Linked DNA regions of Homo sapiens. The protein of the gene in region 1 interacts with the protein of each later gene in a biochemical or structural test. Each region holds a gene or a part of one and is shown on either strand. Other genes may lie near its edges.

The links.
Region 2: of the proteins of BTRC (region 1) and SMURF2, one has a biochemical effect on the other in vitro, tested with the Homo sapiens proteins (one study listed by BioGRID).

Annotation. Positions count from the first base shown.
Region 1 is NC_000010.11:101,359,295-101,364,534, reverse strand, and holds part of BTRC (F-box/WD repeat-containing protein 1A), read right to left. Parts: intron 1-5,240. UniProt on the Homo sapiens protein: Substrate recognition component of a SCF (SKP1-CUL1-F-box protein) E3 ubiquitin-protein ligase complex which mediates the ubiquitination and subsequent proteasomal degradation of target proteins. Recognizes and binds to phosphorylated target proteins.
Region 2 is NC_000017.11:64,541,782-64,544,544, forward strand, and holds the end of SMURF2 (E3 ubiquitin-protein ligase SMURF2), read right to left. Parts: 3' UTR 501-2,763; downstream 1-500. UniProt on the Homo sapiens protein: E3 ubiquitin-protein ligase which accepts ubiquitin from an E2 ubiquitin-conjugating enzyme in the form of a thioester and then directly transfers the ubiquitin to targeted substrates.

The DNA.
Region 1 (5,240 bases):
CTTAAGTTTAGGTGCAGCGAAGAGATGGAAAGCTGTTAAAACTGTTAACAAAGGAGTTGTTGGGTTATTATGTATGACCTTGATGTAAACTCTGTTACAGTTCAAATTCTGTTACAAATGCCATTCCAGTGACATCAAGCTTATCAGTCCCAAAGATAGAAGAATAGCACCATGATATTGCTGAACTTTTCAGGGCATCACTGTGGAATAGTCAAGATTCTGATTATTTCTTTATGCTTTTTTTCTACATAACATGAAGAGAAGAAATCTGCTGTATTACATTATGATTCTAGGAGTATCCAATCAACAGGTATTATTCAGCAACCAAAATGAAAAAGTGCTATCAGGAGAGTGTCAACAATAGAGAGCAGAAAGAAGAAAGCACAATAGTTGTCATAATAAGCATCTTACCATTCTTCTCTAAATCAACTGTACTAGATCACTGCAGTAGATTACTGTCACTATAGTATTGTGCAAGTTACTCCCTGCCCTGCTTGACTTTGGGCTTTTGACTTTGAGTAAGCCAAGTTTAGATCATCCACTACCCAGCAAACCCACAATTTCAAGAGAATAAATACCTATCACTGTAAGATGCTGGTATTTTGTGATTCTAAACGCCAATAGCTAACTGAAATGATACTGTGACAACAGTAGAGTCTTACTGCACTTCATCGGTAATTTAAATAATCAGGAAACCTATATGTAAATCTGGACAGTAATTCTTCCACTCTGGCCACCGCTTGACTGCCTACCTCAGAGAGATATCTGTCAAAATCTATCTATTCATCAAGATCTAATATGAAGCTTTCTTCTACAAAGCTGCTAAAGAGCTCTTCAGTTAAAACGAACTTCCCGGCCAGGCACAGTGGCTCACACCTGTAATCCCAGCACTACTAAAAAATACAAAACTTAGCCGGGCGTGGTGGTGCACACCTGTAGTCCCAGCTACTCGGGAGGCTGAGGCAGGAGAATCACTTGAACCCGGGAGGTGGAGGTGGCAGTGAGCTGAGATTGCGCTACTGCACTCCAGCCTGGGTGACAGAGTAAGACTCCATCTCAAAAAAAAGAAAAAACAAAAACAAAAACAAAAACGAACTTCCCCTCCCTTAAATTCTATAGCACTTTGTGCTTCTATTTTAGCATTTACCAAAGTGTGCCTTAACAGATATTAAGGAAACATGCCACCATATCCCACAGTTTTCCTGCTCTTCAAAGAGGAAGTATACTGCACGTAAGTAAGGCTCTCAAGTCAGACTGCCTGGATTTAATCTCAGGATACCTGCTAGCATGACTTTGAGCAAGTTACTTAACCTCTCTGGAATAATTTTCCTTAAATGAGAAATGGGGATAATAATAATACTGAATCTATCTCACAGGATTACTGGGAGGATTAAATGAAATAATATATATAAAGAGCTTAGAACAGTATATTTAGAACAGCAAATAGTACATGCTAAATAATTATAGTCAAACCTCCATAGCTGCAGGGAACTGGTTCCAGGATCCTCCCATCGGATACCAAAATCCACAGATACTCAAAAGTCTCTTATAGTGCCTTAAACGGCACATAACCTACACACATCCTCCCATATATTTCAAATCATCTCTAGATTACATATAATAATGCAATGTAAATGTTATGTAAGTAGTTGTTATACGTATTGTTTTTAATTCCCACTTTTATTGTTATATTGTTATTTTTTATTGTGGTCTCTTTTTCTGAATATTTTCAATCAATGGTTGAATTAGCAGATATGGAACCCACAAATATGAGGGACCAGCTGTTAGCTGTTAGCTATTCGTGGCTGACTGTATTAACAAAACACAAAAAATTTCTTCTGGCCGGGCGTGGTGGCTCACACCTGTAATCCCAGCACTTTGGGAGGCAGAGGCGGGCGGATCACCTAAGGTCGGGAGTTCAAGACCAGCCTGACCAACATGGAAAAACTCCGTCTCTACTAAAAATACAAAATTAGCTGGGTGTGGTGCCGCATGCCTGTAATCCCAGCTACTCGGGAGGCTGAGGCAGGAGAATAGCTTGAACCCGGGAGGCGGAGGTTGCTGTGAGCCGAGATTGTGCCATTGCACCCCAACCTGGGCAACAAGAGCGAAACTCCATCTCAAAAAAAAAAAAATTTCTTGCACCTCTGCATTCTCCTGTAATTGACAGCATCAGGTCAGGTCACAAGCCTAGGAGCAGGAAGGCAAAATCAGATACCCTGAAAGGAAAGCCAAACTACAGAAAGGAGCAAGACTTTAGAAAGAAATTCCAACTCAAGGCCGGGCACGGTGGCTCACAGCTGTAATCCCAGCACTTTGGGAGGCCAAGGCGGGCGAATCACAAGGAGGAGATCGAGACTGTCCTGGCCAACATGGTGAAACCCCATCCCTACTAAAAACACAAAAATGAGCTGGGTGTGGTGGTACGTGCCTGTAATCCCAGCTACTCGGGAGGCTGAGGCAGGAAAATCATTTGAACCAGGGAGTCGGGGGTTGCAGTGAGCTGAGATCATGCCACTGCACTCCAGTCTGGCGACAGAGTGAGACTCCGTCTCAAGGGGGAAGAAAAAAAAATATCCAACTCAGAAGGTTCATCTTAGGCAGGCAGAAATTCTCTCTCCCTTAGCTCTAGGGCTTTTGCTCCCTTGCTTCCCAATCCCCACCTTGGCCACATATAAAGGTAATCCAGGAACTAGCAGGTAGTGCCTCAGAGAACAATCATATTCTTAGTTCAACATTAATCTCAGTTATCTTTTTCACTTGTTTATCTCTGAGTCTTCTGTACAATGTTATAGCTGGTCTTATAGCTCTATCTCAATCAGGCTATGGGAAACTAAAAGGAATAAGCCTCAGACTATTCTAATTATCCAGAAATTCTCCCCAAGTACAGCAGAAATATTGTGGAACACTAGTTGAAACTGTTAAGATCCAGTGGACCCTTCCCATAGAGATTTCTTCCCCCCTCCATTGCCTATTTTAGAATGCTGAGATTGACTTATTACGGAAAGAGAAAGTTTTATTTTTATTGACTAAGTTGTTAAACTTTGGTAAATATTTTCTATTTCATCCTCAATGGATTCTCACTATACACATTTAGAAAGGACTTCTGTGCTATATTAAAATATTGCTGGCCAGGTGCGGTGGCACATGCCTGTAATCCCAGCACTTAGGGAGGCTGAGGCGGTTGGATCACAAGGTCAGGAGATCGAGACCATCCTGGCTAACACGGTGAAACCCCATCTCTACTAAAAATACAAAAAATTAGCCAGGTGTGGTGACACGTGCCTGTAATCCCAGCTATTTGGGAGGCTGAGGCAGGAGAACTGTTTGAACCCAGGAAGCTGAGGTTGCAGTGAGCTGAGATCGCACCACTGCACTCCAGCTTGGGCAATAGAGCGAGACTCCGTCTCAAAAAAAAAAAATTGCTAAAGCTGGGCATGGTGGCTCAAGCCTGTAATCCCAGCAATTTGGAAGGCTGATGCAGGAGAATAACTTGAGGCCAGGAGTTCCAGACCAGCCTGGGCAACACAGCAAGACCCCATCTCTACAAAAAAATAAAAATATAGCCAGGTGTGGTGGCACAAACCTGTAGTCCCAGCTACTCAGGAGGCTGAGGCAGAGGCATTGCTTCAGCCCAGGAGTTTGAGGCTGCAGGGAGCTCAGCCTACTGATGGCAGAGCTGCGCCCAAATAAAATAAAATACTGCTAGAAAGTAGGTGAGATTTAAAAAGTATTTTAGGCTGCGAGTGGTGGCACGCACCTGTAGTCCCAGCTACTGGAGAGGCCGAGGCACAAAGATCACTTAACCCTAGCCTGAGTTCAAGGCCAACCTGGCAACAGAGCAAGCAAGATCCCATCTCTAGAGGCCAGACGCGGTAGCTAATGCCTATAATCCCAGCACTTTGGGAGGCCGAGGCGGTCGGATCACCTGAGGTCAGGAGTTCAAGAATAGCCTGGCCAACATGGTGAAACCCCGTCTACAAAAATACAAAAATTAGTCAGGGATGATGGCAGGTGCCTGTAATCCCAGCTACTTAGGAGGCTGAGACAGGAGAATTGCCTGAACCTGGGAAGCGGAGGTTGCAGTGAGTTGAGATCGTGCCATTGCACTCCAGCCTGGGTGACAGAGCAAGACTCCATCTCAAAAAAAAAAAAAAAAAAAAAGCAGATCCCATCTCTAGGCCAGGCATAGTGACTCACGCCTGTAATCCCAGCACTTTGGGAGGCCAAGGTGGGCGGATCACTTGAAGTCAGGAGTTCGAGACCAGCCCGGGCAACACGGTGAAACCCTGTCTCTACTAAAAACACAAAATTTAGCTGGGCGTGGTGGCACATGCCTGTATTCCCAGCTACCTGGGAGGCTGAGGCACAAGAATTGCTTGAACCCAGGAGGTAGGGGCTGCAGTGAGCCAAGGTTGCACCACTGTACTCCAGCCTGGGTGACAGAGTGAGACCCTGTCTCAATTAAGTTTTTTTAAAAAAAAGAGATCTCTTTTGAAAGTTTATTTTCTAATTTAGCAATAAATAATTTCTAAAACTACTCAAAGTTGAATTTTTACTCCACATCTAATAATTCACTTTTGATAATTTATGAAAATCTACTATAAACATAAATTTAGAAAATTAGCAAAAAGAGGCCGGACACGGCAGCTCACGCCTGTAATCTCAGCACTTTGGGAGGCCAAGGCGGGCAGATCACCTGAGGTTGGGAGTTCGAGACCAGCCTGACCAACATGGAAAAGCCCTGTCTCTACCAAAAATACAAAATTAGCTGGGTGTGGTGGTGCATGCCTGTAATCCCAGCTACAGGGGAGGCTGAGGAAGGAGAATCACTTGAACCTCAGAAGCAGAGGTTGCAGTGAACTGAGTTTGCACCATTGCACTCCAGCCTGGGCAACAAGACCAAAACTCCATCTCAAAAAAAAAAAAATACAACAAAATTAGCCAGGCAAGGTGGTACACGCCTGTAATTCCAGCTACTTAGGAGGCTGAGGCAGGAGAATCATTTGAACCCAGGAGGCGGAGGTTGCAGTGAACCGAAATTGTGCCACTGCACTCCAGTCTGGGCAACAGAGCGAGACTCAGGGTATCTCAGACAAAAAAAAAGAAAATAGGCAAAAAGAATTACCACTAATTTCATACCCCAACACCTATAAGAGTACCCAGAAAACAAACTGTTTGAAAGCCAATTTAAACTGGGAATAGGTAAAGTATACACAAAAACTCAGACAACTTAAACT
Region 2 (2,763 bases), on another chromosome or scaffold:
TAGAGTTAGCTGGACTTTAGTCCACTATCATTAATACAGTAGTGAATTATAAACCTTAAAATCCACAGCTTCTAGAAAAAATACAATTGATTTCTCCTTTTCATTTTGAGAATTTTACTGCTCGACATACCAAGGTAGGGCTGGCAAATATGAGCCCCTGTCATAGGCCTGCCCTACAGAGCGGAGATGTATTATAGCAAAGATGGTTGCAGACTGGTGACAGGACCAAGATGCTCTTCCCCACTAGCCCCTGACCCCCCTCAGAAATCCACCTATGCGGTACCCCCAACAGGTACTACCAACTGAGCAGTCACCACGGCCGGAGAAAACGGGCACCTTCCCTGCTCTGCGAGGAGACAGAAAGCTGAGCTCTGCAACATGACAGAGGCATCAACTCAGGATGGCATGTGTTCTTGAACTTTTCATTTTGTGACTCATGTTGTCACCCTCCATAGAGCCAACCATAAATGTTTTCAAAACGATTCATTACAAACTCAATATTCTTTAAAAACGTTGATGCTGTGACAGTGCAAACAGCATTGATTTTATTGCTCGACTTCGGCATGGGCACATACATAGTTAATTTTTAAAAACCATTTATACAGATGTTACTGATAAAGCTCATGTAACAAATGAATGAAAATACAAAGAATATCAAAGCTAAAACACTCTGTAATAAATACAAATACAATGAAAATGATAAAACTTTGTTTTTAAAGTCAGTCTGAGAGAAGAATATTACATAAAGTGAACTAATTACATCTAGAAATAAAACAACTCAGCATTTGGAACAATCATCCTAACATGTTAAATACCACAAATGGCACCCGTTGACTGTACGCTTAGAAAACAAGCAGAAGGAGCCACTCTCCCAAACTAAGGATGGTTGGAACAGCCTCTAACTCCCAACAATCCAATCAGTCCAATGCACTGGAAATTCAAAGCCCAGATTTAGTGTTGTAAAGTAAAGCGAATTACATTGTATTTGAAAGAAGAGAATCTTGTGCTCCGGACTGTAAATACATGAAAGAAAAAAAGGCTTGGTAAAAAACCCATTCGGGGCAACAAACTATGTGCAAAACAAAATGTACACTATACACTATACACTATGCACTATTTAAAAACTACACCAAGATACAAGGCCCTCTGAGGCAAGACTTACCTCTCTGTACTGCCTATGAGCTCTACAAAGGAATCTCTGTTCATAACTAAGCATTCATGATGGAAAGGCAAGAGTATGAAAACAGATATCACATATCTGAAATAACAATACAGCTAGAGGGAAGACAAGAAAAAACCAGTTAAGAGGGACATGGAAATAAATATTCACATTAAACATGAGGTGCAAGTCCATGGTTCAATAATACATTGGGGGTTTTTGCTTAGCACCTATTTGGAAGTAATCGGGTAATGTAACTTTGAAATGGAAATCTAAATCATGTTTTTATATATGTTGGTGATAACATAGACTGTTATGGAGAGTAATTTCTTTTTTTTTTTTTTTTGGGCGGGGACGGAGTCTCACTCTTGTCGCCCAGGCTGGAGTGCAGTGGTGCGATCTCGGCTCACTGCAATCTCTGCCTCCCAGATTCAAGCAATTCTCCTGCCTCAGCCTCCCAAGTAGTTGGATTACAGGAGTGCGCCACCATGCCCGGCTAAATTTTGTATTTTTAGTAGAGACAGGGTTTCACCACGTTGGCCAGGCTGGTCTCGAACTCCTGACCTCAGGTGATCCGCCCACCTCGGCCTCCCAAAGTGCTGGGATTACAGGTGTGAGCCACCATGCCCAGCCAATTTCTTTCTTTTAAAGCTCTATTAAGTCATTAGTATAAAGTTAAAAAGGCACTCAAAAAGCAATGGTATTTGCCTGCTTTATATTGTATATTAAAATAAGTGATAGTAGCATTTCATTATTACTGTATCCCTGTCAGTTATGATTTCTGTATTCATTATGTACTTTTTTACTGAAAGATTTTAAAAGTAGGCACAATTATAAACTGCACTAGTGCTTTAATATAAAAGAGAGATGGGTCTGCAACCAGTAAAGTACTATCATGACAGCTGAACATTACTGATTATCAAATAGCATAGAAACCACTTCCATACATTTCAAGATGCTCTTCAGTACTCAGAATGCAATGTAAAAAAAACAAATTGTTTGAGAGGAAAAAGGTAGGCATAAGCATATTACCACTGCACAGTTACAACTATGACTAGCTTGCTTGTGGCAGTTGAATTTGGCCAAATGAAATACATTAAAATACTTAAAAACTACACAAGTAGTTCTCAACTTTTTTAAAGCAGCAAAATCTCCACTTTTTTTATCCCATCCATTCCTCCCCGCCCCACTGCACCCCATGAAAGCTTACTTGAAATTCCAATATACATAAGAAAAATGGGCTGTTCTGGGTAAAGGGGGTGGGGATATGGAGCCTAAGGCCCCTGCTCAAATACCAACTAGGCCTTCCCCCTCGCTCCCTCTCATTGCCCCTCTTCTCTTAAACCATTACTCCTGAGGCACCCCTGAGGAACCCTTTGGCTCCAAGAACACAGACTGAAACCCACTCCATCACATGAAACAGAACACAGAGGACCTATTTACTTGATAACTTTAAATTTTGCAGCTTAATTATCATGAAAATTTGCTTATTTCACATCAATGTAAAAAAAAACTGATAGTACATATTTTTGATGGTTGAATTTAAAAATCCAACTGTGATTTCAGATTTTTTCAATCCCTCACCCCAGAGTTTTCGTTGCTTC